Homo sapiens: one gene and its partners. The protein of the gene in region 3 purifies or fractionates together with the protein of the main gene of each other region. This does not show direct contact. Each region holds a gene or a part of one and is shown on either strand. Other genes may lie near its edges.

What was found.
Region 1: the proteins of SPEM1 (region 3) and PPP1R1A purify together in Homo sapiens (affinity purification with mass spectrometry; 3 studies listed by BioGRID and IntAct, with this or other methods). This does not show direct contact.
Region 2: the proteins of SPEM1 (region 3) and PRG2 purify together in Homo sapiens (affinity purification with mass spectrometry; 2 studies listed by BioGRID and IntAct, with this or other methods). This does not show direct contact.

What each region holds. Positions count from the first base shown.
Region 1 is NC_000012.12:54,577,442-54,588,052, forward strand, and holds the end of PPP1R1A (protein phosphatase 1 regulatory subunit 1A), read right to left. Parts: intron 6,880-10,611; coding exon 6,819-6,879; intron 5,808-6,818; coding exon 5,770-5,807; intron 5,355-5,769; coding exon 5,291-5,354; intron 4,691-5,290; coding exon 4,535-4,690; intron 3,610-4,534; coding exon 3,503-3,609; intron 2,952-3,502; coding exon 2,946-2,951; coding exon of another isoform or gene 2,843-2,945; 3' UTR 1,805-2,842; downstream 1-1,804. UniProt on the Homo sapiens protein: Inhibitor of protein-phosphatase 1. This protein may be important in hormonal control of glycogen metabolism. Hormones that elevate intracellular cAMP increase I-1 activity in many tissues.
Region 2 is NC_000011.10:57,385,209-57,396,029, forward strand, and holds PRG2 (bone marrow proteoglycan isoform 1 preproprotein), read right to left. Parts: upstream 5,443-10,821; 5' UTR 5,388-5,442; exon of another isoform or gene 5,275-5,387; intron 4,749-5,274; 5' UTR 4,737-4,748; coding exon 4,679-4,736; intron 4,110-4,678; coding exon 3,802-4,109; intron 3,501-3,801; coding exon 3,369-3,500; intron 2,658-3,368; coding exon 2,546-2,657; intron 2,326-2,545; coding exon 2,267-2,325; 3' UTR 1,572-2,266; downstream 1-1,571.
Region 3 is NC_000017.11:7,416,093-7,425,829, reverse strand, and holds SPEM1 (spermatid maturation protein 1), read right to left. Parts: upstream 5,507-9,737; 5' UTR 5,446-5,506; coding exon 5,302-5,445; intron 5,204-5,301; coding exon 5,143-5,203; intron 4,950-5,142; coding exon 4,225-4,949; 3' UTR 4,198-4,224; downstream 1-4,197. Other genes in the region: uncharacterized protein SPEM2, read right to left, coding at 4-141; NLGN2 (neuroligin-2 precursor), read right to left, coding at 8,031-8,904, 9,723-9,737. UniProt on the Homo sapiens protein: Required for proper cytoplasm removal during spermatogenesis.

The DNA of each region.
Region 1 (10,611 bases), on a different chromosome or scaffold from region 3:
TCCCCTTTTGAGCAGTAAAATGGAGCGAGTGAAGACATAGAATGGAGCCAAAGTGTGGGTGGAGCAGGGAAATCCTCCCACGCTCTTCTGTCCCCCAGTCCCTGCAGGAACAAAGGAGGTACCTTCTCAGAACAGCAGCAGAACAGGGTGGGCCCATGCCAGGTGACAGCTAACCTGCACCGCACCTTAGGGAGGGTTAGGGAAAAGGAGCCCAGCCAGGGCACACAGCTCAGTGAGGGCAGCTGAACGTGACTTCGACTTCAGCCCCTATTCACCCCCTTGGCTGGGCACCCTTCTGAAGGGCATTTTTTGCACAGCTCTACTCGGGACTGAGTGGGGATCAGGACTTGGAGAAGGAAGGTCAGGTTGGAGGTGAAGGCAAAGCTCAGGGCACTGAAGTTTCTCCCTCTTTCCCCAGGTCTTCATTGAGTCCAAAGTGTTTGATGTCATCAGCACCATCCATCAGGACTGGCTCCCCCATCTGCTCCAAGGGAGCGTGGTCGTGGAAGAAACAACCCACCTGAAGGCCAAATGCCAGAGATTTGGGGTTGGGGAAAGGGCCCCTCCCCACCTGACACCCACTGGGGTGCACTTTAATGTTCCGGCAGCAAGACTGGGGAACTTCAGGCTCCCAGTGGTCACTGTGCCCATCCCTCAGCCTCTGGATTCTCTTCATGGCCAGGTGGCTGCCAGGGAGCGGGGAGCTTCCTGGAGGCTTCCCAGGGCCTTGGGGAAGGGTCAGAGATGCCAGCCCCCTGGGACCTCCCCCATCCTTTTTGCCTCCAAGTTTCTAAGCAATACATTTTGGGGGTTCCCTCAGCCCCCCACCCCAGATCTTAGCTGGCAGGTCTGGGTGCCCCTTTTCCTCCCCTGGGAAGGGCTGGAATAGGATAGAAAGCTGGGGGTTTTCAGAGCCCTATGTGTGGGGAGGGGAGTGGATTCCTTCAGGGCATGGTACCTTTCTAGGACCTGGGAATGGGGTGGAGAGGACATCCTCTTCACCCCAGAATTGCGCTGCTTCAGCCCCATCTCCAGCCTGATCCTCTGAATCTTCCTTCCCTCCCTTTCTGATACAGTGACTGGGGCAAAAGGAGCCATTGTGACCAGGGGCTGCGGGAGGCCTTTCCTGGGACCTTCCTTGGGACTGGTCTGGGCCCCTGGGGCTTGTCGCCTGCCCTGAGTCCGGAGCCCTTTGCCTCCTTCCTCTCCCCTGGGGCTGGGAGGCTCCATCCGACCAATGTCTGTAAAGTGCTTTGAGGATCTCCCCAGCAAAGCACCTTCAGAATGTATCGACACCAGCTGGGTTAGGGTCAAGGGTGCCTGGGGAGGGTGAGTAATCCTGCATTGCTAAAAGAGAGGGTCTGTCCCCTCCTCTCCACGTCCCAGAACTGGCCCAGCTGCAGGCACTAAGAAGCTCCTCCCCTGAGACAAGTGAGGGGTAGTCGGTGAAAGGCAGATGGACAAGGGGCTCAGGGCTGCTGCCTTCCTGTCCTCTGGAGAGAACCCAGCCAGGCGCGGTGCCCCTTCCTCTCCTCAGGCTCCTCCTTGCCCCCACCTTGCCCCAGGAAAGGCCAAAGTCCAGGTGACTGCCCTCCTTCTTTCTTGTAAATACCAACCATGCATTTGTACAGTGGGCCCTGTTCATGCGAAATCCACATCCATGGTCTCCTAGACCTGCTACCCTGGTACTTCCACCCTACCCCACCCCGAGAAGGGCAGAGACGCATGTGACTCACCCCTGCCCTTGGTTTCCCAGACCCCTGCTATAGCCAGAGAACAATAAAGAAGGGAGACCAGGCCTGACTGTGTGTGTTCACTGGGTACAAGTTGACCAAGCATCTTCACATACATACACTCTTTCCAGCATGATAAAATCTGGGTGAGGCGTTCTCCCTCATATATATATATATATATATTTAGGTATGTATCTGGGCAAGCTGAGGCCCAGGAGGAGGCCCCGAGGGCTCATAGTAGCTGCATGGCAGAAGTGGGACCTGACGCTTCTCAGGCTCTGCTCTTGCCTCTGTACCACATGCTTCAGCAGGGAGGGGGAAAGAATCTTGCCTTCCCTCCTTTCCTCTCTCCCACTACCTGGGAAAATCAAAAACAGCAGCAGGAGAGAGGCCTGGCCGTGAGATCTGAGACAGTTTCTTCTCTTATGCTTGGTTTTGGTCTTATCTGGGCCCCTCAATGTCTAGGACAAGGGAACCCTTCCAGTCTCCAGCATGGGCCTCTTCATTAATAGCCACTGTGTTCTCTATCCATTGTTGCTAACGGGTTGAAATAAGGGACAGCGGTCCCACAGCTGGAAGAGGGAACACATCCTGAAGCTTGGGAATCCAAAAGGAAGGCAGCTGGGGCTTGGAGGGCAGGCGAGGAGGTATCGGCACACCACCATACCCTCTTTCCCATGGGCCAAGTGCCATGGTGCAGTTCCCCTTTTGTCCAGCAGATGGAGCCCACCGCACAGTCACAGCTGGACACGGCACAGGCCTTAGAGCGCCGAGTCTTCCAGCTGCAGGGCAGGCCTGTGAGGTGGTCGGATCGTTCCTCAATAAGAAAAGAGAACCTGGGGCTTTTCTTCCTTCTTGGCACCCTGGAAGTTAGTCCTCCCACCTATCTGACCCTCATCTCTCTTCCCACAGCAAGTAAAGTCAGGGCTAAGGGAAGAACTCTTCCCTGCTCAAGGCTTCTGCCTAGCTCCTGTTTCTTCCTTCCCAGAGGCAGCTTGGCAGGAGGGTGGGGGCTACAGAGAGGGCAGGGCAAGAAGGCAGGGAGAAAGGATTCTCCCAGTTGGAAAAGAAGGAAAGTGCCAAGGACCTAACACCAAATTTATCACTTTTTAAAAACAAGAGATTTTCCCCAAAAGTGAAGGAATAAGAAACAAATCCGGTGTCCATGCATTCCCAAACTGCAGTCTTGATCCCAAGATACCTCCTCCTCTCTCAGACCTGTTATGGGGGAAAGGGGACAGAAAGAGAAGGTGAGAGGCCAGAGGGTCATTTTGTCCCTTCCCCTTCTGGCCATCCCATTTGTCAACATCTAATGTCTCAGAAAGCTTGTTCTGATGTCTGAGAGCAGTCCTTCCTGTGTCCAGTCTATGCAGGGGGCTGCGGATTATGAAATCAAAGCTCAGGAAGTTATCTCATCAATGCATCCTCCAGGCAGGGAGAGCCACTGCCCACTTCAGCTGGGCAGGTGAGGATCTCCCTTCGGGTTCCAAATCCCCTTTATCAAAAAATCCATGGCCTACTGCTCTCACCCATTCCAGGAGCCAGAAGTCCTACACAAAGTCTAATCTCAATCCTTCTTGCTGCAGCTATCCATTTCTTTTTGTCTGTCAGAGGAGATACAAGTCCTTTTACCATAAAGAATAACTTTTTAGGGACTGAAGCTGGTTCTTTGTTTTCCTTTTCCTAGACTCCAAATATTAGCCCCTTGCTTTTGTCCACAATATTAGCCTCCTCTCCTATGACCTGGCAGCCCAGCCCTGGGGTCTTACCGAGTTGGCTCCCTTGGAATCCAGTGGTGGTATATGGGTTGAGGGTTCTTTTGTGCTGGGTTCCTTACTGCCTCTCTCGTGAGTTTTAGGGATGCATTCTGCAGTTTCTGGGGAGGGAACATAGGGGTGGGAGGAAGAGGTGGCATTCATAAAGGTGTTGGGGAGGGAACTGCTTCTCCTCACTGCACCCATACCCCAGTGGCCCCTGAGAGGGCCCCAGGACCAAGTTGGGTGCAATCAGGCAAGACCAACAGGGTTTTCTTTGATCACAATTACTACTATATGTTCACTTTTAAAAAATCTTCAATCAAATTGGAAAGAATAAACCCTCTACAGTTTAAAAAACAAAACTCAATATGTGTCTAAACCTGACATGAACTCATAGGAGGCTGTTTTTAGTCTTTATTCTGCTTAGTGAGACCATTCACTGGATTGCAGAAATATTATGTGTTTGATTGTAGGGTTCTCTGCCGGGAATACTATGCGATACACAGTTTATGTACTATATCTTCATAAAATTGGAAGCATTCTGAATTCTGGAATATATCTAGGATAAGGGACATAGCGCACTGCTACCAGCTTCCACTTATTGCATGCTCTGTGTGTGTCGGGTGCTGTGTCAACAGCCAGTCTCATTTAATAGTCACACACAACCCACTGCAACAGGCACCCTCATTATCATTTTATACCCTGAGGTTAAGTCGTTCAAGGCCTCTCAGCTGGTAAGGTAGCAAGTGGCCGAGCCAGGATTCTAGCCTGTGATTGCTGTTCCCATGAAGGTGGGTTTCCCCCATGTAGCCACAGTGGGGCTCTGAGGTTCAAGTTGGGAGGGCTTGGTGTCACTCAGTAAGGAAAAGTGAAGATTCAAATATATGCCGAACATGCCAACAGATCCATATCCTTGAGACAGTTTTTGCCTACTACTAGGCCTCTCCCAGGCTCCAACTCTTTCCCCTCCCCGCAGTGGGTAAGGCTTGCCTCCTGCTGGGCTGGGAAATAGGATGCCTGGGGCCCTCCCCAGCCTGAACATACTTTTTGCTGTCCCAGAGGTGCCCAGCCTTGACTCCACTTCTGTGTCTGGGATCCCAGGTGGGCGGGACTCCTGGGTTCCTGTGCTCTCAGCGGCCCCCTCAGGTTCCTCTCCTTGCTGCTGTTGCCCCAGGTGATGTTCAACCATCATCTGGAGCTCTGGGGACACAGAGAAAGGGAGGGAACACTGGATATGACTGCCTAGCGTCTCCCCTGTGGGCCTCCGGATTCAACAGCCCCACTAAAGGCTCAGCACACATTGCTGGGTGTTTGACTTTCCCATCCACTGAGATCTGAACAAGGAGGGGACATTAGCTGGCAATAAGGAGGAATGAAAACTAGACCATAAAAAGTACTCTTCTTCACAGATAAGGGAGGCATAGGAGAAGAGGCTTTAAGAACAAGGGATACTCCTCACTTGCTGGGATACATGGTCTTCCCTGGGGGAAGGTGGAAAGGCTCAATTTAGATTCAAGAAAAATTTGAGTATCTTGTACATGTTGTGCACTGTGCCGGTGAGTTCACATATATTATTTTATCTGCCATAATGAGGTAGTATTCAAGGCTCAGTAAGTTAAGCAGTTTCTCCCAGATCACCCAGCTAGTCAGTGGCAAAACTGGGATTTCAGCCTCAGTTCGTCTAGCAACAGTTCTACCATAATAAAGGCAGATTTAACGACCTCCCTTCCAAAGGGCATTCGGTCTCCTCTTCAGCTTCAGGCACAGAGGAGAAAAAGGGATGGGAGGGGTCTTGCAAACCTTTCATTGTGGGTGTGATCCTTGTCATCTTCTTCCGTTGCCGTGGAGACATTGCCAAAGTGGACTGTGAAGGGCACAGAGCACAGATGGGCGCCAGCCCCCCCTTGCTCTCCAGACCCCTCCCTTGCCCTCTAGCCCCCCATGCCCTCCAGCCCCCCTTGCCTTCCTCCTCTGCCTTGCCAGGCTTTTGGATTGGAGCCTGGGGTAGGTGTGAGCTTCAAAAAGTGGGGTAAGAAAACGCCTGCTTCCCCAACCACCTCGACAATGGTGAGCAAGGAGACTGTGAGTGTGTGTGTGTATGTGAGTGTGTGTGTGTGGGGTGCATGTGTATATGTTCACTCATGCACATTTGGGGGGTAGAGGTACAGGGAAGCGGGAGTCAAAAAGATCCTAGAGATGGGCGGCAGGGTTTTAAGGAATAATCCCCTAATGAATGTGGGGGTTTTTTGGGCTGGGCTTAGTGGGATGGGCCAGCTCACCTTGAGATGTGGGTTGGGGATCCGGTCTTCATCTATCTCTGAAGGGAACAGGGAAAGGAGAGGGTGATAAGGACAGGAAACCAGGGATCCCCATAGAGCTGACTTCTCAGGGGAGGGGATTCTGCAGCCATGCTCCTCCTGATCTGTCCCTCACATCTGCCCCCAGGCTCTTGGCCCTCATGGCTGCCCCAGACCTCCTCCCCGAAGCTCCTCTCCTGTGCTTCCGCTGCCTCCATCCCTCTGCATCTAGTCCCGTCCTTGGCTCTGTGGTCAATTTGCGTCTGCATCTTTGCCTCAGACCTGGAGATCCCCAAAGGCAGGATCTGTAGTCTTTTTGCTTTTTTTCCTCCTCTGAAGTATCCATGTCTCTTTCTCTTTCCAATCATTCCCCCACCCCAGGGTCAGCCAGAACTAAGCCCTGCATAGGAGGGAACAGTGATAGAGGACAGTCAATTTATTCTGTGCAGGGTCTGGAAGGTATAGCTGGAGGCAAGCTGGAGACCCCGGCATCCTGAACCCCAGCCTAGCTTCTTAGCCTGTCCCCCTCGCTTCCATACTCCTGTCAAGCTCTCTACCATTCTCTGAGAACTTGTTTTCTCCCCAGACCTCGATGGGGATGCTGGTGACCAGAATCTCAGCTGCTCCCTGAGCTGCTTCTAACCTTCCCCTCCCCCTCTGGGGGCTGTGAAGAGCTGGTGGAGGCGGTCCCTCCCCCTCACAGCTGACACTGCCTCTGGGGGTGGGGGTGGCAGCATCTCAGTTGCTGGAGAAATCTGGAAGGCTGTTGTCGCAGCAACCAGCACTCAGTTGACCACCCCAATTCCTGGGGGGCTTAGGAGCCAGGTGGTCTCCCTCCCTTTCCTAGAACTGCTCCATCTTTCCAAAAGCAAAGAATATTCTGCAATCTAGCCACCACCTTCCTGCCTTCAGTACTGAGGACATCCCCGCCTTCTCAGAGCTGTTCTTCTTCCATCTAGCGCCCATCTTCTCATTGGGACCTGCTGCCATAGTGGCCCCCACGCCCTTCAGCAACCTATCCCTTGGCTTACCTGGGGATGACTGGTCACTGGTCAGCACGAGGGTGGCAGGGGTGGGGCGGCGCCTCCGAATCTGAGGGAAGGTGGGAAATGGGGAAGAGGTCAAGTACACGTGGAAGCATCAAAGCCCCACCCAAAACCACTCAGTAACATAATCCAGGCTAGCCTACTTAACACACCTCAAAAAATGCCATGTTAATGCAGCTGGAGGCCATTATCCTAAGCAAACTTATGCAGAAACAGAAAACCAAATACTGCGTGTTCTCACTTATAAGTGGGAGCTAAACATTGAGTACTCATGGACATAAAGATAGGAACAATAGACACTGGGGAATAAAAGAGAGGGAGGGAGGAGGGCAAGGGCTGAAAAACTACCTATTGGGTACTATGTTCACTCTCTGGGTCAATCATATCCCAGACTTCAGCACCATGTAATAAACCTTTGTAACAAACCTGCACATGTACCCCCCTGAATCTAAAATAAAAGTTGAAAAAAAAATGCCATGTTACATTGGTGAACCAGGGTGAACATCCCTGGGCTCCTCCCCCTCCCCTGGGGAGAGCTAATCCTAAGGATCCAGAAGACCACCTCGCCTCCCTGCATGCCCCCATTCCCCTGTTCTGTCTCTCCACCTCCCCCTGGTCCTGGCCCCAGCTCTCCATCTAAGCATATCTGCTCTAATGCATTGATCTCTGGCTTGCTGTCCTTCCGTCCATCCTGGATCAATGGTCAGAAATAACTTAAGAGGGCACAGGGCTTTCTCTCAGTGTTCTAACCCACTCCCCAAGCAAGATGTTAACATTTTGTGTGACAGCGCCTGGAGAGAGCATCCTTTTCAAGCGCCCCCCAGCCTGGGAGGACAGCACAGAGGAGGATCTGAACGTGCATCTCCTCTGGCCTGTGCCCCTCACTCCCTAATGTCCTCTCTGTCCTTGGATACATTGCCTTTCTGATTTGTCAAGAAATGGGGTTGGGGGAATCCTTGTCATGGTAGATATAATATCAATACAAGGAGGAGCCCTAGGCAGGACCCTGGTCAGGGCCCAAAGCGTAGCTGAAAAATCTTATCCTAGGCTCCAGGTCCTAGTCTAAGAAATTAACATATAAAGCTGACTGACTGCCCTGCCTCTGAGCCCCCTTTCCCCCCACTGTTGTTCTTTTGTCACGCTGCCAATAAAGTTGATTGTTGTTGAAGTCAGTTCAAGGACTCCTGGGAGGTGTAGTTTTCCCCCTTTCTCTGGAGGCTTTAGAGGCTTGGAAGCAAGTGGAAGGATGGGGGTTAGAGGATGACCCTCTAGGTTAGCAGTGGGGAGGGAAGGCAAATGGGGCTGGGAAAAGGGCTAGAATTATCCTGGGCTGAGAGGAGTAGGATGAGGACACTGAATGATCAAACCCTTATCTTTGCATGTCCATTATTTAGAATCATCACCACTGGCCGTGGGGGGATGACAGAGGTGAACACTGCCCCTCTCTATGCCCAGAAAAGTGGGGGGTACTGGCTATGGTAAGATGGGCTGTTTAAGCCTGAGGGGGGAACTCTTTCCAAAGAAGAAACAGGATGCAAAGAATGGGGGTATGTGGGGGTAGGGCATCATTTTCCCAGGAGAATTCAGTGGCATCTGTTTTTGGTGACATTGCAAGGTCCCCGCAGTACCAGTCCTTTGTGTATGTGTGTAAGTGTGCACATGGATGAGCCGCACAGACATTAACTGTGAGTCGTCTCTGGTCATTCCTGATACACATGGGCTGGGGACCATCTGCTTCATGTATATGGGGTGGGGGCCATCCTTCAACTAGAAGACTCCTCTACTTCTTTCCATCCTGGAGGGGCAGGGTGTGGTGGTGGTAGTAGGAAAGAGACAAGGAGGGTGGAGTGGCGATCAGTGGGTTGAGATAACATCAGAGTGGGGAGCCCAAGAAAGAGACTGCAAGTATGACAGAGGGCAGCAGGGCTGTCTGGTCTTGGACACATCACTTCCTTGACCTATTCCTTTGCTTTGGACAAGGTTTCTAAGCATTCAGAGTCCTTGGGAATCGTGATACCCTTACAGCAGGAAGGAGGAAAGTCAGACTTCCTGAGGTACCTCCCAGGCACCTGAACTAGTGGGAAATAAGTAGATGGTCTCTTTTCCTTTTCTCATACCTATCCCAAATCCTAGCTCTCAGGAGCATGTGATAACTTCGCCTCGGATTTCTTTCCAAAGCAGTCATGCCAAGGATCTGGAAGCTGTGGGCACCCCTCCACCGCCTGCCACTCTGTGCTCTATAACTCAGAGCTTCCAACTCCTTTTGCCCTCCCATGTTGGTCTGGGTTAGGAGCACCTGCCAAGCCTGGAGCTTTTTGCCTAACACAGCAGGAGGGGCTGAGGTTAGGCCACAGGAAGAATTTCAGGCCTAAGAGACACAAATTCTGAAGATTAGTGAAAGTAGGCCCAAGTCCCGGCTCTCTTTTTTCCCTCTGACTCCTCAGGATTGCCTTGTGCCCCTCCCTTGTCTCCTAGATCCCTGAACCAGCTGGCCTTCCTCCTCCTCCTCCCTACCCACCTACTACACCTGCCTCCTCCAACACCCAACAGATACAGGTGTCGGGCCCTGTCTGTGCCAGTGGGAGGCAGTTCTCCTTGGAACTGCATCCCCAACCTCCACAGTCCAGACTCTTGAGCCCTTTTTCCTGGGTCTGAGGTTATCCTGGCTGATGCCCTGCCTCCAGGCATAGCAGCCTTTCCCCTGACTCCCAGGGAACACAACCCATGCTGATGGCTCTCCATCCTCCTCATCCTCTACAGATTTGTGAGGCTTCACCAAGAGCCTTCCCGTAGTCACACCTTAGAGCTCTGAGGTGGTGGCTCACCCCAGGCCAGAGAGAGGACGGAGACGCAGGTACCTAACCCTATCTCCACATTGGGAAGCTGAAGTGGTAGGGAGAGTGTGTACCCCTGCCCGCTTCCCTTCACATCAGACCTTATTCTACCAAACAGCTGGAGCAACAAAAATGACAAAAAACACTCTCTCCACCTCATCCCAAGAGGTCACAAAGTTTTTTTCAGGTTGGGGGTGGCCAGCCAGAGCCTGGCAGCTTGTTGAGAGAAACAGAGAACTGACCTTGTGGGAAATTGATATTCTTTAGGAATGGGAATGTCTAGGCAAATGGACAGAGATTACAAAGAGATGGAGCAATAGGCAAATAAGCAAATATTTGGCAAACAAGGAGTAGTAAGGACCACGGGTGGCCACCCTCTCCACACATACGCTCACTCTCACCGAGGCATACACTTGCTCACACACTCTCATACACTGCCCCCTCTGCCAGGCTGCTCTGAGCTAAAAATAGACCAGGCTAGGAGGCTGGGCCAGGGCCCTGGACTCCCACCCCTTGAGCCAAGGCTGTCACAGTGCTTCTCCCTTGCATATTGTTCAGCTTGGACCCCAGCCCCTGGAAAGACTCCACCTCTGGCCTCCCAGTGCTGCTGGCTCAGTCCCACCTGGACTCCCCACTCCAAAGGGCAGGAGTTGGGAATAAGGGCCATGTGCGGAGACTTGAAGAAGGGAGCCTCAGCCTACAACTCGACCACCCCTCTCCCCTCTCCCTGGAGCCCCAGCCCTCTCAGTGGTCCTCAGTCCCTTCCTGTTATCACTTTCGGAGCCCAGCAAGGTGGCCCCCAGTTAGGAGGGGACAGGGAGAGCTGTTTCTCCTCTTCCAACTCCCACCCTTCCAGGCTCCCTCTCCATTACCGACCCCTCCCCAGGCCCCTCCCGCACTGCTGCTGATTCCCTTCAGCGCCACCACCAAGCTCAGAAACTCTA
Region 2 (10,821 bases), on a different chromosome or scaffold from region 3:
AAAGAAAAAATCTCTTTCTTTCTTTTGAGACGGAGTTTCGCTCTTGTTGCCCAGGCTGGAGTGCAATGGCACGATCTCGGCTCACTGCAACCTTCGCCTCCCAGGTTCAAGCGATTCTCCAGCCTCAACCTCCTGAGTAGCTGGGATTACAGGCATGTGCCACCACACCCGGCTAATTTTTTTGTATTTTTAGTAGAGACGGGGTTTCTCCATGTTGGTCAGGCAGGTCTCAAACTCCCGACCTCAGGTGATCCGCCTGTCTCGGCCTCCCAAAGTGCTGGGATTACAGACATGAGCCACCGTGCCCGGCCAAGAAAAATTTTTCAATGGATGTACAATGTGCTCCTATAAAGCACACTATAGAGTGGACTGCTCAGGGAAACTTCACAGTGAATGCACCAATGTAAACATGCCTAGGTCGAGATACAGGATGGGACTAGGAGCCCTGCAGCTTCCTTCGTGCCCCTTCTTGATATTACTCCCCCAAAGAAGATCTCTGTGGACTGGAAGTCAAACTTCTGTCAAAGTACACACCCACAGCGGCAGAGATTTATGAGGAACAAGACAAAGTTCACCTAACATTTAGCACAGTACCTGACACCTAGTAAATGCTTAATAAATGGGAAATATTATTACCCTTTGTTGTTAATATTGAAATAAGGGAAGCAATGCCTTTCCACACCAGAATATAAAGTCCAAGAGGGCAAGGAGTGAAAGTTCCACCTCAGCTGCATCCTCACAGCACTCACCACAGGGATGAACCCATAGTCCACCATCTTTGAAATCAACAGATTCTTGTGGAACAATAGTTGAAATGAACCTGAGTTTGATTTCTCTCTCTTTCTCAACTTACTATGTGACCTTAGAGAAGTAGCATCCCTTCTCTATACCACACTCCAAAAAAATAGAGTTCTTGTTTCACCCCTCTCTGAGCCCCTAATCCCATATGAAGATCTATGAATTGGAGGAATGCTGGAGAAAAAAATGGCTTTAGAACATTGAATTATTTTCTTCTGCTGACCTCCCTAGTACAGAAGGGGTTGAGAATGCCTTCCTCCCTCCCCTCTGATTAAAGCTCCCTCACCTCCAGCTGGGCTGGTGTCCTGTGTCCCAAGATGAACCCAAGAGTGAGACAGTCTGGCTTTCCTCCCCCCGTGCTTCATCCCCGTGTGACCATAAGGGGAGAGTAGCCAGCTGTAAAAGCACAAGGGTTAAAGTAACATGCTTTGGAGCAGAGTTGAATTTCAATATGAGTTGCATTTAGAGGTTCAGTCTTGGGCAAGTCTTTTGACAGATCCTAACTTCTCTGAGCCTGGTTCTGTAAAATAGGGCTCATAATTATTGATCACATGAGGTCATCTAGGCAAGGTGCCTGCCACAGCAGGGGGTATGTTGTGGGTGCTCAATAAGCGATAACAACTAGTAGATGTTTTTGTGCCTATGTTACAAATAACCATATATCCCAAGTGCCAGAGGACTATGTCTTGTATTCCCAGGCCTCATTCAGAGTCTGACGCATGGCAAGCTGTCTTATATCAGGTTTCCCCAGAAGGAGATCCTGAGAGAGGGAGTTGCGTACAAGTGTTTATTTGGGAGTTGCAGAGAGTAGGAAGGAGCAGAGAATGCAGTTGAGGAAGGGAAGGCAGCCCATAAAAATGCATGGAATAAGGCCAACTACCACAGCAGGCCACTGGGAAATGGTGCCCAATACATGTTAGATTTATTCCACTTGAGGGGCCGGGGATTGCGGTACTTATACATTCATTCCTGAATGTTGTGGACTGTTCCCAGGGACATGTTAACTTCCTTACATATAAAACCAACCACAGTTCTGGGGTTGGAGAGAGAGAGAGAAAAGGCCTTTGGTTACAGAGATGCAAACTGGGCCATTGGGAGTCTACCTACAACCTTGAAAGGTCCTGGCAGCACTATGCAGGTGCCCAGTAATCAGGTGTTCTATGAAGAGAACTAGCTGAGCCCATTCCTCCATCTCCAAAAGGCTCCATAGACCCAACTCCACCCTCCATCCTCCTCCTCAAGGAGTAGTAGCTTCTGACACTTCTATGAAAGTTGTGGTGTGGGGAGAGATGATAAGGAAGAAGTTTCAATGAGGGCTAAGCAGAGTGGATCCGCGATCAGAGGAGAAAATAAATCCATTTCAGTAAAACCCATTTTATTGCAGGGAGGTGGAGGGAGGGATGGCAAGCAGAGGAGGGGAGGCAGCTGCCCAGGAGAGGGCAGCTCTGAACTGCTGGCTGGGACCAGCTCAGTAGGAACAGATGAAAGGAAGTCTTCTGAGGCAGTGGGCTCGACGCCAGTGGCCTCCTGTGAAGGCAGAACAGAAAGGGACTTTCAGCCTCTTGTCCATCCCAACTCAACCCACAGGAGGGCCTCTTTTCCCACCCACACACTGCTGTGGAGTCAGAGTATATAAAAGACCCAGGAAGCCTCTCCCACAAAGGGTCAGGCTCTTTGTAGCATCTCCTCCTTGGGGCACTTCCCATCTCCCAGACCTTTCCATCGTTCATCCCCAGCCCCACCTCACCTCGGGTACACAGGGCCACGCAGTGACCACCGCGGGACCAGGGCTGGTGAGCAGCCCAGTATGCAAAGTTCCAGCGGCTGCCGTCAACCCACTGAAAGCGTCTGCAGCGACCCTGGAGAAAGCAAGAGGGGAAGAAGGGATGGGGCAGAGGGAAGGCAGAGAAGCAGACCTGGCCCCGTATCTGCCAGCTCTTTCTGCTGCCCACCGGGCAATGGGCCCTTCCCTGCTGGACCATGATGGGAACTGTCCTAGTCATCTGAAATGCTGATCCACGGCAATTATCACCATCAGATTCTATGCATCCCAGTGACAGGCTTGTCCTTCCAGCCCTAACAAAAGGTAGAACAAGGGTTGCCAACTCATCCTAGAGATGAGGAAACAAACTCATGGTCTTGTTTTAATTTTTTTTTTATTTTATTTATTTATTTATTTATTTTTGAGGCGGAGTTTCGCTCTTGTTGCCCAGGCTGGAGTGCAATGGCTCCATCTCGGCTCACCGCAACCTCTGTCTCCCAGGTTCCAGTGACTCTCCTGCCTCAGCCTCCCAAGTAGCTAGGATTACAGACATGCACCACCATGCCCAGCTAACTTAAGTTACATAGATAGTGAGAGATGGAAAGGAACTTGGACCCAAACCTCCTGATTCTAAATCCTTAGCTCTTCCCTGAATGCCCAGGCAGCCCCCTCAGTGTTGTCTGTGGGTGTCCATCTATCCCTGGTTCTTCTGGAGATTATACAGGAGAAAAACAGACAAATCTGATGCAAGCTGAGTGCTGGCTGAGATCAGCAGGTGCACCCCATTTAGTGTTCACACTTCTCTTACCGAGCCTGTGATCCTGCCTCCAATCCAGACTTGACCCTGGTTGAGCGCGCTGACAGAACACTGGATTCGATAATTAATATTGAAGTTGTGGATGGAAACCAGGTTGCCCCTGTAGCACCTCCGGCAAGTAAACTACAGGGCAGGATAAAAGACAAAGAATGGAGCATCCTTCCTACATGAATTCACATGGGTCTTGAGTCCCCACAATTCATTCCCTCCCTCCCCTGCCACAACCATTTGAAGGTTGGAGACCAAAATGCAACTTCTGTTTGTAGGTGGCCCTCCCCTCTTACCCCAACACCTCTCTGAGGCTCAGGTTCTACTGACACCCCCAGGGCCCTCAATGGGAAAAAGAGCCAGTGATAGCAATGCTGGGGGCATATCCCACACCCGTTCCATGCTCCCACCTCAGCCTCAGCCATAGGCCACTCACCCAAGCTTGACTAAACGTCTGAAGACTTCTCACCAGGAGGTAGCGGCAGGTCTGGCACCCAGGGATGCCCACCACTTTTACTGTGTCCTCTTCCTCAGGACACGTAAGGTTTTTGTCCACCATATCTGGCACTGAGATAGACTCAACAGCCCCATCTTTCTTGGAGGCATCTTCACTTCCAGAGCCCCACTCCTCCTCTTCCTCCAGCTCCCTGCAAGGGGTCTCCTCCATCTCCTGCTCTGGTGTCTCCTCATCCTCAGGCAGCGTCTTAGCACCCAAAGGGGTCTCAAAGGTGGAAGTCTCAGACCCTGGCAGGGAGGATAGCTAAGTGTCCTTCCTTCACATCTCCCCTTGTTCCTCCCCAGAACCACAGACAGCTCACACCTTGCCCTGGGCATCAGAGTGCTCAACTCTGCCTGGGAAGGGGAACCTGGAACCCAGTCTCTATGAGGGGAACCCAAGCTGCCTGACAAGGTCAAGGTGGTTAAGAGCATGGACTTAGAGTCGGGCAGTCATGGGCTTGGGTACTGGTTCCATCATCCACCAGCTGTATTTCTGTGAAATGGGTATACAATACCACCTACTTCATGGCGATGCTAAGAGAGTTAAAGGAGAGAAGGCACTCAGTAAGCTCAAAGTAAGCATAATGGAGAAAGGACAAAATTGGGAATGTCACAGTAGAACCAAGACCACAGACATAACAGACGCCTTGAGAAATCCTTTCAACTCCTGGCCATAGAGTCCCCATCCCTTTAAGCACACAGAAATTCAGAAATAGAAGACGATCAAAGAAGGGGGTGGGTGTGTAACTCTGACCCCATCTACCATAGAAAGGGAAAAAACAGAGAAAGAAAGACTGAAGGCAAAAAACACTTACTTAGATGAAGAGCAGAAACTGCCCCAAATAGAAGAGCCAGAAGTAAGGGGAGTTTCATCTTGGCTTTATCCTGCAACGGAGAACACAGTTTGTCATTGACACACACAGACACACATGCACACACATCACAATCACACCATTAGGGGACCGTGGGAGTGAGGTGGAGAAAAAGAAGGCCTGAATAGAAATCAGGATGGGCCAGAAAAGCTCATGCCAAGCCCAGCTCCTGATGCTCCAGGATCCAGGACGCAAGGACCTCTTTCTAAACAGAACGCAGCAAACCCTGAGGGGTGGCTGAGGCTGGCTTTCCTTCAGGCCCGGAAGTAAAGAAGGGACTATTACGCTTATTTGTTTGTACTTAATGGGTCCCTCAGAGTCTATGACATAAAAAAGGCGGGAGAAGCAATGATTATTGGCTTTCCTAGGAACACATAGGACTTAGAAGGTATGTCCCCTCCTCAGAGTTCAAGAAGCCACCCACACCCTCCTCCATGTCTCCACCATCTCCTTTCCCCAGCCAAGGAGCACTTTCACATCCCGCAGAAGGAATGTGCAAGGCAGAGGATGAAGGCTGCCCCTGCTGACATCCTCATAACCTGAAAGCCACAGGTAGACGCCTGCCAGCCCTCCAGAAACTGTCAGCCACAGCCAGGGACCTCCTGGGAGAATAAACTGTCACCAGCTCCACCACAGCAGAGAAAGCACTCACCCACCCAGAGACCTTCCTGGGTCTTTAGATCTTCCCAAAGCCCAGGTCCTTCTTTGCTTCCTCTCACAAAGACTTCTTATATAGAGGCCTTGGAGGAACTTCCCCCAGGGAGAGAGAGTTTGCCTCTGTCAGAGGGAGATAGCAAGGCTGATAAGGACCATTTCATCACTTCCCTGGGGAGCCCACTCATTCATTCAGTGAAGATTTCTCTCCCGATACCCACTTCAGGAACCCAGGGGCCATCTGGAACAGCTCTGGGCAATGGTTCTTATCCTGGGCTACACTTCAGAATCGCCTTGGGTGCTTTTCCAAAATACATATCTCCCCTGTTTTACTGGTGTTTTGAACTGCCACAAACATTTTGAGAACAAATCTGTCCATACCTATTAAAATAAAAAAATGCACATTTGATCAGTTTCACTCTTTTGAGACTATCCTTTAGGCATAAATGCGCCTATAAGTAATAAAACTTTTACAGAGTTATGTTATTCCTTGACTATTTGTAGAAATGAAAACAATATTGATATCCATCAATCGGACACTGAGTAAAATGTGTCCTCTCTATTCTACAGAATGTTATATGGCTATGAAAAGAAGAGCTGGACCTGTATCTATAAACCTGAAGAGATGTTTCTGTGACATGAAGTGAAAAAAGGCAAGATACTGAGGAAAGTATTTAGTATGTGAATAGTTTTACAAGGAAAAAAAAAACCCCCGCATAGGTGCTTATCTGTGAGCATCCTTATGTGACCATTGATGGAGGGAATGCTAAAAGGAATCACACCAAATAGTTGACCTTGTTGCCTCCAGAAGCAGGGGAGGAGAGGGAAGAAAGCAGGAGACAGATTGTTGTTTATCTTCTTTTTATAACTTTGCATTTCTTCAGTGGTTATGGTAAATGCGTGCTGAATCTGTAATTTTGAGGCTGCCTTATTAAAGATTTTTAAAAATATGCAGATGCCCTGCCCAGAAACTTCTGCTTGGCTAATAGGTCTAGCGTGAAGGTCAGATGTCTGCATTTTTTTAAAAGCTTCCCAGCTGACTGTGATGGAAGATGGGTCTAGGAGTCACTGTCCTGAGGATCTTCAAGTACAGGAAATGTTCACGTATGTCTAACTTCTTTCCTTCTGAATCAGACCACTCAGTTGGCCAACCTACCAGCCTTCATTATGGTAACATTTACTGAACATTTTTAAATGCCATGCATGGCAAGTGGCTGGATGCAGTGGCTCATGCCTGTGATCCCAGCACTTTGGGAGGCTGAGGTGGGTGGATCTTTTGAGGTCAGGAGGTTGAGACCAGCCTGGTCAACATTGCAAAGCCTTGTCTCTACTAAAAATACAAAAATTAGTCAGGCATAGGGGTGGCTGCCTGTAATCCCAGCTACTTGGGAGTCTGAGGCAGGAGAATCACTTGAACCCAGGAAGTAGAGGTTGCAGTGAGCTGAGATTGCACCACTGCACTCCAGCTTGGGCGAGAGAGTGAGACTCCGTTTCAATCAATCATCAATCAACAAAATACTGTTCATGGCAAGTATTACCTCATTTAACCTGATTTTAAAAACCTAGTGAGGTAGGTGGTTGATACCCCATTTTCCAAGTGAGACAACCCAGGCTCTGTGTGGCTCCTGATCTCCCCGCAACACTGCCCTTATTGGATCGATGCCCTGTATACACCCTCTTGTAGCTCCAGGGGCTTGTCCTTATCAGTTAGTCATTTTACTTTTCTTGTGAGATTACTTGGTTAATGGATTAACATCTGTCTTCCTTCGTGATGGTGAAGGCTGCATCTCTTTACTCACCATTGTATCCTTGGTGCTTAGTACAGTGCCCGGCACATAGTAGGTACTTAATAAATATACATTGAAGTAATTAATGGTTAAGTAACGTACTCACGTAAACAACAGGGTTAGAATTCAAATCCAGTTCTTTCTGGCACCAAACTTCTCTCCCCTCCCATATGCCTGCTTGTGTGTCAAAAATGATGCTATCCAGGTGGAGATAAAATCAGAGTGAAGCATAGATCCTGTATTCAATTAGCTTACAACCTAATTTGTAAGATGAGTAAATTGAGGTCAAACAAAAGGAGAAGGGTTAAGACCAAGCTAGGAAACATCCTCTGCTAATTCAGAAGGAAGTCCATGCATAGTAAAACAGAGCAGAAAAGGCTCCATGAACCAAGGAGCTGATTCCTACCTGGATGGAAAGATGCAATTAGAAGGGAAGGAAACAGGCATTTCAAGTAGAAGGAACAGCTTGAGCAAAGGTGTGGAGGTTGGACAGCCTTGGTATATGCACAGGACACTGTAATTTCCTTCATAACTAAAGTTAACAGTACACACATTGGGAAGGAATGAGAAAAACGAGGAACGATGCATTTCATCTTGAGCCGAGGATGGAGATAACCCTCCCCTGTCTCCATTGATTTAAAAAGACAGAAGCAGGAATCAAAGGAATACTCAACAAGAGCCTAGTCAGGAGCTTTGAGCTGGGCTCTGCGCACTCCCATCTGCAAGCCCTCCCCACAGGACCTCTTTGGCTGTTGGACAGAGGATTACTGTCATAAGGTGATGAGAGGGAGCCCATTCTTGGAAACCAGTTGACTGTTCAGGGACCCTCACTCCTAGGGAAGTCTCTCTTTTAGGTCATACAATCCAGGATCTGAAATCCACAGCTTAGCAACCCTGAAAATTTCATCAACATTCACTGGAAGTATACAGCAGTGTCTGAGAGGGTGGCTTCTGGAGTCAGACAGTCCAAGTCAGACTCAAATTGACTGGGTCTAGCACTTAATAGCTGCGTGTCGTGTCCTGGGCAAGTTCCTTAAACTTTCTGTACCTCATATCATCATTTATGAAGTAGGGATGACAATACCTACCTCACTGGGTAGTGTGAGAAATGAATGAGATAATTCACATGTAGCATGCATGCTGTGAGCTGCCCAGTCACCTCACCCCTTCCTGTGGTTTCTTGGATTCCATTTCCTATGGATCTTGGTGGAGGACAGGCCTCTCATTTTTGAAGACAAAAGTTCCTAATAGATTTTCAGCTTCCTTTGCAGCTAACGCATATGACTGGGCTCTATCAAAGAGAAGAAGCATCTATTCAAGATTTTGAATCTGGAGCTAGTGACCAAAAAGATGGAGGCCAAGAAGGCCTCTCTCTGGCGGTGGCGTTGACAAGATTGAGTTCCTGGAGTTGCAGTACCCACAGAGGCACTGCAGGATACATTGATCCAGGGTCTGAGCCCTACAACATCCTGGGTGCCAGACACAAGGTCTAGGTCTCAGCAGCAGTGGGATCCTCCCTAGACCTGTTCTGCAGCCTGACTTTGGCTCCATGTCTGGTTTTCCGGCCCTTCCTGCAATTTCATGAGCTACTCCGTTTCCTTTCAGTCCTGGATTTTTCTACTTAGATCAGCCAAGGAGAGTTTCTGCTGCCTGCCATTAAGAGCCCTGACTGATGCAGCATTTAGCACAGAAACTGGTATTTAGTAATTGCTTAGTAAATGAATGCTACCCAGGGTCTTTGAGTGTGACCAGCATTAATCAAACTTTCAAGAGACTGATGTCTACTTTTGGTGCCAATGACATAAATGAGGTTGAACGGTACTCACAAGGGGCCCACTTGCCCAGGCTCTCTGATAAGCACATTCTTTCCCTGCATCACAACTGTGGTGTGCTCAGGACTTGAATTTCAAATGGGAGCGAAGAGCTGGAGGCCTTGGGGTCCAGTGCCTTTGAGCAAGAGAACGATACCCATCATCTCCGTTTAATCCTCAGCCCTGCCTCCTTCCCCAAGAAATGTTGACTCATCACTGCAGGATCCTGAATCTTAGGCATCCTCCTTTCTAGCCCTAAAGTTACTACAGAGCTTGGAGGTTCCTAAACAGACTCAGTCAATCCTCTCCATACCAGCACTTCCAAAGGGGACCTGACAGATCACCTCTGCATTTAATCTTTTCTGATCTAATTCTCGGGGGGCTCATCCCAACTTTAGGCTTGTGGGGGAGTGTGCTGTAGCTCCTGGTACAAGCTGTCCAGGGTCAGACCTGGTACTGAGGGGTCTGCTCTTCTACAAGAGTGGGCTGTTGCAACAGGAGAAAAACATGTGTGCACCAGGCAGAGCAGAGATCACCTTGGAGATGGTGTCAATACCAAGGAGCTCTTGGGATGCCCCTCCCATGCCCAACCCCCAACACATGACAGCTTAAAGACTAAAAAAACCACCACAGCTCCAGATATGCAGCTCACACTATTCAGCCCTCACCTCCACCTGCATCCCTCCCCACACCCTGCAGCAGAGCTTTTCAACCTGGAAACTATGAATAGGCTTCAAGGGACCATGAACCCTGCAATTATAGAAAACATGGTGTGATGTTTCTAGGGTGAAGGTCCAAACCCTCCATGAGATTCTTTGATGACTTCCCAAAAGGCAAGAGAACCTCTAACTTTACTGAGTGATTTTTTTCTGGAAGAACCAAGAATGACATTCCACTGTTCTTCACCAATAAAGTCCTGCTTGGCCCTTTTGACAGGCAGAATTCAGTTGTCCCCTGGTGCACTGTGCATAATCCCTGGGACTGTAAATATGATGGATTTTACTCCTGTGGTTGTGTGATGTTACATGCCACAGTTGACTTTAAGGAAAAGGAACTGCCCTCTATGGGTATGATCTAATCAGGTGATCCCATAAAAGAGACAGGGCTCTCTTCCTGAAGTCAGAGAGTCCAACCATGTGGGTGATTCAATCCAAGGGAAATTCTCCATCACTGGCTTCAAGGATGGAAAAGACCACGCACGTGGCAAGCAATGTGGGCAGCCTCGAGGACCTGAGAGCAGCCCTCATCTGACAGTCAGCAAGAAAACAGGACCTCAGCCCTGCAACTCCAGGGAACAGAATTCTGCCACAACCACGTGAGCCTGGAAGAGAACCCTAAACTCCAGATGAGCACACAGCCCAGACAACATCTTGATTTTAGCCTTGTGAGACCCTGAGCAGAAAACCTAGCCATGCTGGGCCCACACTGCTGATGAACTCACGATGAGCTAATAAACATGAGTTGTTTGAAGCTGCTAAATTTGAGGCAATTTGTTATGCAGAATAGAAGACTAATACAGCCCTCAAGGCCCATCTCCCTCCCACGGTGAAATTTACAGTGGGTGTAGGGATTGGCAGAGAAGGGTCCCACAGGAACGGGCTGAGGAGCTGCTGGAAAATAACGAAGGTACAGCAGAGAGGTAAGATGGACACTGAGAAAGGGAGGTTTGATTCAGGCCAGAGATCCCACCATTCTCTCCCTCAGACCATAGGAAGCCAGGTGGCCCTTCTAGTTACATGTTCTGCTCCAGGATTCTCTCCCCACCCTCAGAAAAGTGACAGACTCCAGGGACCTGATCTCTGGGGCTGATCAACTGCTTGTTAACTGGGCTTGG
Region 3 (9,737 bases):
GACCATAGTTGCCACGTTGATGCCAATGTTGACAAGAACGATGAGGCCCAGCAGCAGGAGTAAGATGTCCTCGGCATCGTGGGGGCTTTCTTGGTATTGATTGCAACATCTCACGGTGTTATGCCATAGCTGGTTTTCCATGGAGGGGGGGTCCTAGGGCCACCTGGGCCACCCCCCTCTGCCCCCCACCCCCGGCCCCAACCCACACTGCACTCATGCCAATCCCCGGAGATAACTACAAGCTGGTAAGGGAGCCAGGTCACAATGAGGTGAGCTAGCGAGAGTCACAATGTGGAGGTGGCAGCTTTTATCCATTCTGCTGGCCCCTTCTACCGCCATCTCCACCCTTGGCTCCTACTTGGTGGAGCCTGGTCCCCACATATCCCAGATCTCAGTCTGTTCCTCTATCTCCACGAGGTTTGCTTAACCCCACAGCTGGTTCCTGAGCTGAAGATAGGGTAGTTAGAGGCTGACACGGTCGTCACAGGGTTGAAGCATGCATCAGATATGTCCTGTTTCATTGTTCTTTTGAGACATTATGGCAACTTACATAGCCTGTTGGCGTGCCTTGCCCCATGGTTACTTTGGGGCCAGCATCTAGGGTGACTAGATGGGCGGGTGACACTGCGTCCCCTCAGGCATCACCCTGCTGTACCAGCCCCTCCCTACTCTGCCCATTTCCCTGTCAAAAGTCCTCTAGCTCCCATCTCTGCCCAATTCTTCCTGGCCAGACTCCAGCCCTAGGTGTTGGTGGTCCTTGAGCCCACCAGCCACTTCGTCACACTGACATCTGACTCACTGAGGTGGCTGCCTCTGCTGGGAACCAACCCCAGCCATGGTTTCTCCAACCTAACCACCTACACTCCCACCAACCCACCCTTACTCCAAGGTGAAAAACGGTTAAGCTACTACCTGAAGAAAACCCGAGCTGGGCGCGGTGGCTCATGCCTATAATCCCAGCACTTTGGGAGGCTGAGGTGGCTGGATCACCTGAGGTCAGGAGTTCCAACCTGGCCAACATAGTGAAACCCCGTCTGTATTAAAAATACAAAAATTAGCTGGGTGTGGTGATGCGCGCCTGTAGTCCCAGCTACTCGGGAGGCTGAGGCAGAAGAATCATTTGAACCCAGGAGGTGGAGGTTGCAGCAAGCTGAGCTCTCGCCATTGTACTCCAGCTTGGGTGACACATCGAGAATCTGTCTCCAAAAAAACAAGAAAGGAAGGAAGGAAGGAAGGAAGGAAGGAAGGAAGGAAGGAAGGAAGGAAGGAAGGAAGGAAGGAAACTTGCTGGGCGCAGTGGCTCACGCCTATAATCCCAGGCAGGTGGACCACCTGAGGTCAGGAGTTTGAGACCAGCCTGGCCAACATGGCGAAACCTCTACTAAAAACACAAAAATTAGCTGGGCATGTTGGTGGGCGCCTGTAATCCCAGCTACTTGGGAGGCTGAGGCAGGAGAATTGCTTGAACCTGAGAGGTGGAGGTTGCAGCGAGCCAAGATCGCGCCACAGAAGTCCGGCCTGGGTGACAGAGTGAGACTGTCTCAAAACAAACAAACAACCCAACAACAACAACAACAACAACAAGAAAACCACATGAAATTAACAAAGCACAAAATACATGTAATTGTTAATATACCAAAAAGAGTGTTTGACTTAAAACAGGTGCATCACTGGGGTCTGTGGTGCCCTGGAGACTGCAAGCCATTTGTTTACACAGTGAACCACTCAGCAGAAAGAAAGGCCAGTGATCATATCCCATCCAGCCTCCAAACACAGAGTAGATGCAGAGTAGATTCAGATTCCACTGAATGGAATCCATTGAAAATGATCAGTAACGTTAGTTGAATGAGAGAAGTAGGGCCATTTGTAAACGGTCCGTCTGCTCACATTCCAGGAATCTGTCTAGAGTGGAAGGTGAAGTCCAGCTCCCTCAGCCTGGGCTCACGCACACAGCTGCTTGTTCTCAAGTGGTATGTGTGTGCATGTGCATATGATCCCAATTGTGTAGCAGAAAGGCAGGGCCTGAGTTTCTCTGTTTCTCAGTTTCTGAGTTCACATGGTGAACTGGGGAAGGTGGGAGGTTCTGGTGGGTCAGGCTGGCTCTGCAGCAATGGGATGGAGCATCTGAGGCCATGAGCTTGATCCTCAGTGTCTGTGTAACCATGAGCAAGACCCTTAGCTTCTCTGAACTTAGTCTCCTCACTGGTGACATGGTGAGTTAATCAAAGGAGTGAGGTCACAGAGAGCTGTGATGTTACAGTGAGGTACCTCTTGAGGGGGGCCCCAATATTTCTCTTCTTTTTTTTTTTTTTTGAGATGGAGTCTCGCTCTGTTGCCCAGGCTGGAGTGTAGTGGTGCAATCTCGGCTCACTGCAAGCTCCGCCTCCTGGGTTCACACCATTCTCCTGCCTCAGCCTCCCAAGTAGCTGGGACTATAGGCGCCCACCACCACGCCCGGCTAATTTTTTGTTTTCATATTTTTAGTAGAGATGGGGTTTCACCATGTTAGCCAGGATGGTCTCAATCTCCTGACCTTGTGATCTGCCCGCCTCGGCCTCCCAAAATGCTGGGATTACAGATGTGAGCCACCACGCCCGGCCTTTTTTTTTTTTTTTGATGGAGTCTCGCTCTGTCGCCCAGGCTGGGGTGCAGGGGCGCCATCTTGGCTAACTGCAACCTCTGCCTCCCACGTTCACACCATTCTCCTGCCTCAGCCTCCCAAGTAGCTGGGACTACAGGCGCCCACCATCATGCCCAGCTAATTTTTTTATTTTTTATTTTTCATTTTTTAGTAGAGACGGGGTGTCACTGTGTTAGCCAAGAGGTCTCGACCTCCTGACCTCGTGATCCGCCCGCCTCGGCTTCCCAAAGTGCTGGGATTACAGGCGTTAGCCACTGCGCCCAGCCAAGGGGGCCCCAATATTTCCTCCTCTGCTCCAATCCTGCTTAAGGGTATAGGACCTTCAGGGTGACTGGGGAACTGTGAAGGACTAGACGCCCTCTCAGCCATCCCTCCCCAAATAAATCAGGGCTTACGTGGGAACCAGGCCTCACCGGTGGCTGCAGCCTAACGCTGGGCTCTGGCAGGCACCAGCCTTCTGAGGAGCTAGGGCCATGGAGATGGAGATCTCTCCTCTAGTGCACGACTGCCTGGGGACCTGGGGTAGAATTTAGGGGCTTCTCTGTGCACTAAAGAAAACAAGGAATTAACTGGGCGTGGTGGTGCCTGTTGTCCCAGCTACTCAGGAGGCTGAGGCAGGAAGACTGCTTGAGCTCAGGAGGTTGAGTCTCCAGTGAGCCATGATTGCACCACTGCCCTCCAGCCTGAGTGACAGATCAAGACCCTGCCTCAGGGGAGGGGGAGGAAACAGTCCGGGCACAGTGGCTCACACCTGTAATCCCAGAACTTTCAGAGGTTGAGGCAGGCAGATCGATTGAGCCCAGGAGTTTGAGACCAGCCTAGGCAAAGTAGTGAAACCCAATCTCTACAAAAAATAGTGGTGCGGCTGGGGTGGGGTGGCTCACACCTGTTATCCCAGCACTTTGGGAGGCTGAGGCGGGCGGATCACCTGAGGTCAGGAGTTCAAGACCAGCCTGGCCGACATGGCAAAACCCCATCTGCACTAAAAATACAAAAATTAGCAGGGCATGGTGGCACACGCCTGTAGTCCCAGCTACTCAGGAGGCTGAAGGCAGGAGAATTGGTTGAACCTGGGAGGCAGAGGTTGCAGTGAGCCAAGATTGTGCCATTGCAGTCCAGTGTGGGTGACAAGAATAGGACTCTGTCTTAAAAACAAAAACAACCCCCCCCACACAAAAACCAACCAACCGAACAAACAACAACAACAACAACAAACTAGTGGCCCATGCCTGTAGTCCTAGTGACTCAGGAGGCTGAGGTGGGAGACAGTTGGGACTGCAGTGAACTGTGATTGCACCACTGCACTCCAGCCCGGGCAACAGAGAAGACCCTGTCTCAAAAAAAAAAAAAAATTGAAAACAAGGTAGAGGCAGGTAAGAGCCTTGGAACCCAGAAGGGCCTAGGAAAGGCTGAGGACAGGGACAGGCCTGTGGGGCAAAAGGTTAATGAGGGTCCTCAGGGCTCAGGGCCCTGTGGCTAGGGAGAGCATTCTCTTCACAGCCACAGCTTCTAGGTGCTGTGTGGGCCCTGGCACCCCAGCACCACCACAGATCACCTCCTCTCTCCTTTTTATTTTTTTCCAGTCACCTCCCAGTTAGGGAACGGTACACCCAATTCTTGCTTGTCTCCTCGGCAGTGCTGGATCCAGAGGCTAGGGGGTAGCAGCCGGACAGGGCCTCCACCTCCCGGGTCAGTTCCCGAAGCCGCCGTCTCATGTCCCGGGCATCATACACTATTCGGCCTGAGGAGCGGTGCCGGGAAAATTCAGGGATGACTGCTGGGCCCAGGGTGGGAGCTGGGACAGGCTGGTACTGAGCCGCCTCTGCCTCTGGCACCGCCCCCTCCCCACCGTTCTTGTGGCTAGGAGCCTCAGGGCTGGGAGGTGGGGGGTTCACAGGATACACATAGGCCCTTAGGCCCAGCTCGGACCATATGCCTGTTTTGAGGGGCCTTTCCTCTACGGTAGGCTGGAAGCGGATGGTCTGGGGAGGGGACTCTGGGGCATCCTGAGACCAGGGAACCCAGGTCCCCTGAGTGTGTTGGAAGCCTTCCCAGTCCTCAGGGACATCCCAGTGGTAGGAGCAGATGGCTGGGTACTGATGAGGCTTCTCGTCATCAGTGTCAGGAGCCCAAGCTACTGGGCAGTGAGCACAGCGTGTGGGAGAGCCTCGACGGCGATGGCGGTGAGCTGGGGGCGGGGACACAGTCATCATCACAGGGTCCATGGTGCACCGAAGATGGACTGCAGGAGAACTCTGCTTCTTAGGGGGCTGGGTCTGCTTTCTGAGTAATGATGACTTGGGAGCTTCTGTGGATGGGGGAGAGGTGAGACTAGTGGGGAGGCCAGCTCCTACAGGCATGGAGAGGCAGGGCCCAGGAAGGGCAGCCACACAGCTATGTTGTCTGAGAGGGGCGAGCAAGAAGGGAAGGGGCTAATTTAGGGCTGAGGCTAGAGCACTTGGTTTCTGCCCCTCCTATGTCCCAGCCCCCAGACCTCTTACCTTTCTCACAAATGGTATCATGGAACACTTGGTATAAGACACCACGGAATCGGCTCCAGAGCTAGGTGGGGGAAGACACAGTGATCCCAGGTAGGCCCTGGCCGGCAGGCCTGCCCCCCACTATCCCACCAGCTCCCTCCCATCTGGCCCCACCCTGACCAGGGTCACTATATTGATGCTAATGTTAATGCAGATGATGAGGCCCAGCAGCAACAGGACAGAGTTGCCCAGGTCCTGGCAGCTGTTGCTGTTGCAGTTGTGATACGAGGCCCACTCGGGCCTCGGCCGCTCAACCATGGCCATGGGGTCCCTAGGACCACCGGGGCCCTTACGCCCCCAGCCCACCGTGCCGACAGTGTCCACTGACTGCCTGCCTGTCCCTGAGGGTCTTGGGAGTGAACGGGTCACAATGGTGCCAGGCCACTCCCTTCCAGTGTGCCAAGGGGCTACCCTGAGTCCTGGACCCGTGGCTGACCCTCTCGCCTGAGTCCAGGCCTTGGCAGAGGCCATGCCTCTCACCTCACATACCTCTGCTGAGCTAGCTGCCTACACCAGCCCACTGGGCCTCTGGCCTGTTTGACATCTGCCCCCATCAGCCTTTGTCCTTCCATTATAGAACGACACCAGGCTCCAGTCTCGGCATAGACACGGGTCCTGACATTCATTTGCCAAACAGACCCATTACCATGGCAACCAGACCCCAGCACACACTCCCCCTTCCTCTCAGACCTCAGAGCTGGTCACTGAAAAGACCCCTCCTCCCTCGTCACTTCCCCAGGGCTTGTTTCTTTAGAGACCGCCCTCCCCACAACAGAGCAGGCACAACCAACAGTTAAACTTTTATATTTACAATATTCTCTTCATCTTTTGCCAGGTTTAAAAATGTGTACAGAGCCGCAAAGGGTTGGGGTAGGGATAAGGGATTGTCGGGATTGTTTTGGGGAGAGGAGCTGGGCATTGGAGTCCGTGGCTGAATCATGGGGTCCCCCAGCCCCCCTCCCATGCCCCAATTCTGAGGGCATCTGTCTACAGGGTTCAGGGCCCAGGTCTCTAGCATTTGGAGGGCATGGCTGTTTGGAGAGGAGCTAGACCAGGCAGGGGAAAGGATCAGAAAATAACTAATTTTCCATGGATGGAGGTAGGAAGAGAAGGGACAGTCAAGAGGCAAAGTTCTGGGGACTCAAGACCAGGGATTCTGGATTTGGGTGTCAGTGGAAGACAGCACCCCAGCCCCTATTCAAGTTTGGCACTAACACCCCACAAAATGCCAGCAGATGAGGACTCTCCCCTCGTCCACTGTGTCCCTTAAGCCCTTCCAGACATCATTCTTTTCCCAAATGCCCAAGCCCAAGGCCCTCCGGGGAGTCACCTCACACATTTCAAATTATTCCTGCTGGTGTCTGCCCAAGCCCTGTCCCCACTGCCCCCTCCATCTGTTCCCCAGCACCGCTGACCTCATTCTCCCAACCTGTCCGGTGAGACCTTTCTCCCCACTGCCTCCCTCCACCATTCAAGGCTCCTTTCTTTCAGACAAGGAGGGGGCGTGGGTCAGAGGAGGGTGGTCAGCTGAGGAGAAGGCTGGTCTGACACTGAGATGGGGACAGCTTCAAAGAGGGGGACGGAGATGAAGGGGAACGGAGAACTGAGGCAGGGTGGGGGAGACATGGTGAGGAGAAGGGGCACAGGCGGGAGCCCCCTCACCTGCCACATCCCTCGCCCTGTATCCTGCTTGCCCTTAGTTTCCCCTGCCCTGCCTGGGACTGGGAAATTCTTGGCACATTTTGGGAGTCTTTCCGCTCAAATCCACCTACCCAGTTTGGCACGGATGAGCAATGCTCTGAGGCCTGGGGAAAAGGCTGTCCTCGGACCACAATGAGGGCTTTGGTCAAACATGCGTGGCCTCTGCGGGGGGCACGTTGCCACACCCCCTCCCCCCAACTCGGGAGCAAGGGCCGGGCCTCCCTCGGGGTTTGTTCACCCTCCTCAGCTCCTGCCAACTAGAAGTCTGTGCTCACCTGCCATGTGAGGAGGAACTGGGTGCTGGGCCTGAGGCCTGGGGGAGGCAGGGAAGTGCTGGGAAGAGAGGGGCCGTCTGCCTGGGGAAACACACATCCACATGCAAGAACCTGTTTCCACTCAGAGAAATGCGTCCTGGCCACGGGAAAATAAGCTTCCAGGCAGCATCAGGATGCGTGGACTCCTCCCTCCCCCAGCAGGAAATCTGTGTCTGTCCTCTCTGGAAGGTGAGGGCCTCCCCGGCAGAACGTGCTTCATCTGACTTGTGCCAAGGGGGGCGTCGGGGGGAACATGCTTCGCCGGGGTAGGGGCAAGGGAGGCAGGGGCGAGGGGGCTGTGATTTCCTCGCTGCTTCCCAGGCTCCATCCTCTGTGGTCTGGTGGCCAAGGGTCACTGTATGTGAACACACCACTTCCAGGGTCTCCAGGGGGAGGGAGAGGGGAGGAGGTGGGAGAAGGGATGGGGGAACAGGATTCTGGGGTACAAATCCCCACAGAAATTCTTTGAGGGGGCCAACATGTGTCCAGGGTGGCAAAAAAAAACCTCACCCTGCACATGGGAAAACACACCCCGTTGTGAGAAAGCACACCTCCACGCGGGAAAATACCACATTCCACACACCGAAGACTGGTGTCCCAATGGGGGGGAGAAAACGCCCCCCAGTTGTTCAAAGGCCCAGATCCAGAGAAGAGACTGGGCTTCTCTGCGTGGGAAAGACACGCATCGCAGGGAGGAATCCCATGTCCACCTTAGCGCTGCTGGATGGCGTGTGACGACTCCACAGGAGAAAAGCCAGTTGCCAAGTCCTCCTCCCTGCCTTCGGAGTGGCCGGGCCAGGGAGGGCCGGGGAGGAGGGCCTCCCCACCCACCCCCTATACCCGAGTGGTGGAGTGGGGGTGGGGTAGCGTGTTGTTGTGGCTGGTGGCGGTGGGAGGGGGCGGGGGGAAGGGCCCGAAGGGATGAAGGGAGGGGGGCGGTGGGGGTGGCGGTGGCCCCAGGCCACTGGGCAGCAGGGTCAGGGCCCCGGGGGCCAAGAGAGGCACATCGTCCGGTGCCCGGCGCAGGGCCAGGGTGTAGTCGGGCGGGCAGGCAGGGCGCAGAGCCTCGGCAGGGTCCGCCCCGACGCCACCACCCCGCTTCAGCTGCAGTGACACCAGCTCCTCCTCTGGTGGCAGCTCACGGCCCGCGGCGGGGAGCAGGGGGCCCCCACCAGGCACGCCAGAGCCTGAGCCGCCAGGTGGGCTAAGCCGCCTGCACCGCAGCTCCTGCCGCCGGTCCCGCTTGTAGTAGAGGGCAGCAAAGGCCAGGATGTTGAGGAAGAGGAGGGAGGCACCCACGGCCACGGTGACGCTCAGCTCCGTGGAGTAGTCCCGTGAGTCCCCGGGGAAGCGGTCATAGGCCCTTGGGCCGGGCTCGGGCTCGGGCTCGGGAGGCAGGGTGGCAGGCGGCGGGGGCCGGCGTGTGCCCGGGGCGCCAGCGGGGGGACGAGGCGGCCAGCGCGTGGCGTAGGGAGGCAGGCGCGTGGTGGTGGTGAAGAGCTCCGTGTGCAGGTTGTGCAGGTGGGGCACGAGCTCCAGCCAGAAGGCCACCTTGTTGGCGCGGTAGTTGTCACGCACGCGTGGCTTCAGGCCTATGTGCAGATACTGCTTCTCCTTGCTGTTGAATTTGCTCCACACCACCTCCTCGAAGCGATTGGGCTTGGTGTGGATGAACTTGGTATCCTGCGGCACCGGCTGGTTGGGGTCCCTGTGGGCACAGGAGGGCAGGGAAAGGAGGAGTGAGGGCAAGGCTCTGAAGGAGGGTGGATGGCAGTGGGCAGGGAGACAGACAGAGATGCAGAGAGACAGGGGGACAGCAAGAAAGCCAGAGAAAAAGTCACAGAGGCAGAGAGACACAGATGGATATGAAGAGACAGAGAAACTGCCTGTCTCTTCAGGCAAATAGGCAAATAGGGATGGAGACAGACTGGCAGAGACAGCCAGAAATGCGGGCAGAGGGGCAGGGACACACACAGAGATAGCCAGGGAGAAGCAGAAGCTGAGCCTGAATGAAACACAGACAGGGTCAAAGACACGGGAGGGACAGCCAGAGACAGATACACAGCCAGGCTGAAATCAGCCGGCAGCCAGAGAAAGCGAAAAGTAAGCAGACAAAAGAGAGCAGCAGAGGGAGGTGGAGAGCTGTCAGTGGATTTTCAGAGAGACAGAGACAGAAGTAGAGACACACAAACTCTTACACACACTCAGACACACACACCTGAGCAGTCAGCCAGAGATGCAGAGCCCTAGGGGGGTCGGGCAGGGGGGATCAGGCAAGGAGGAGGGAGAGACAGACGCCAAGCCAAAGCCACTGAGTGGGCCCCCAACTCCCCAGAAAGGACAGCGGCTTCTCTGTCTGATACTGCTGAGTCTCCAACGCTCAACTCCGTGCCTGGCACAGAGGTGTCTGGGTTGGTTTCACTCGAGCAAGAGGGCAGGCCAGAGTGAGTGCCTTAACAGAGGAACGGCGGCCATGTGAAGGAGGGAGGGCCCCGCCCAGCCCCGCCCAGCCCCTCTGGCCCTCACCCAGTCTTGGCGAAG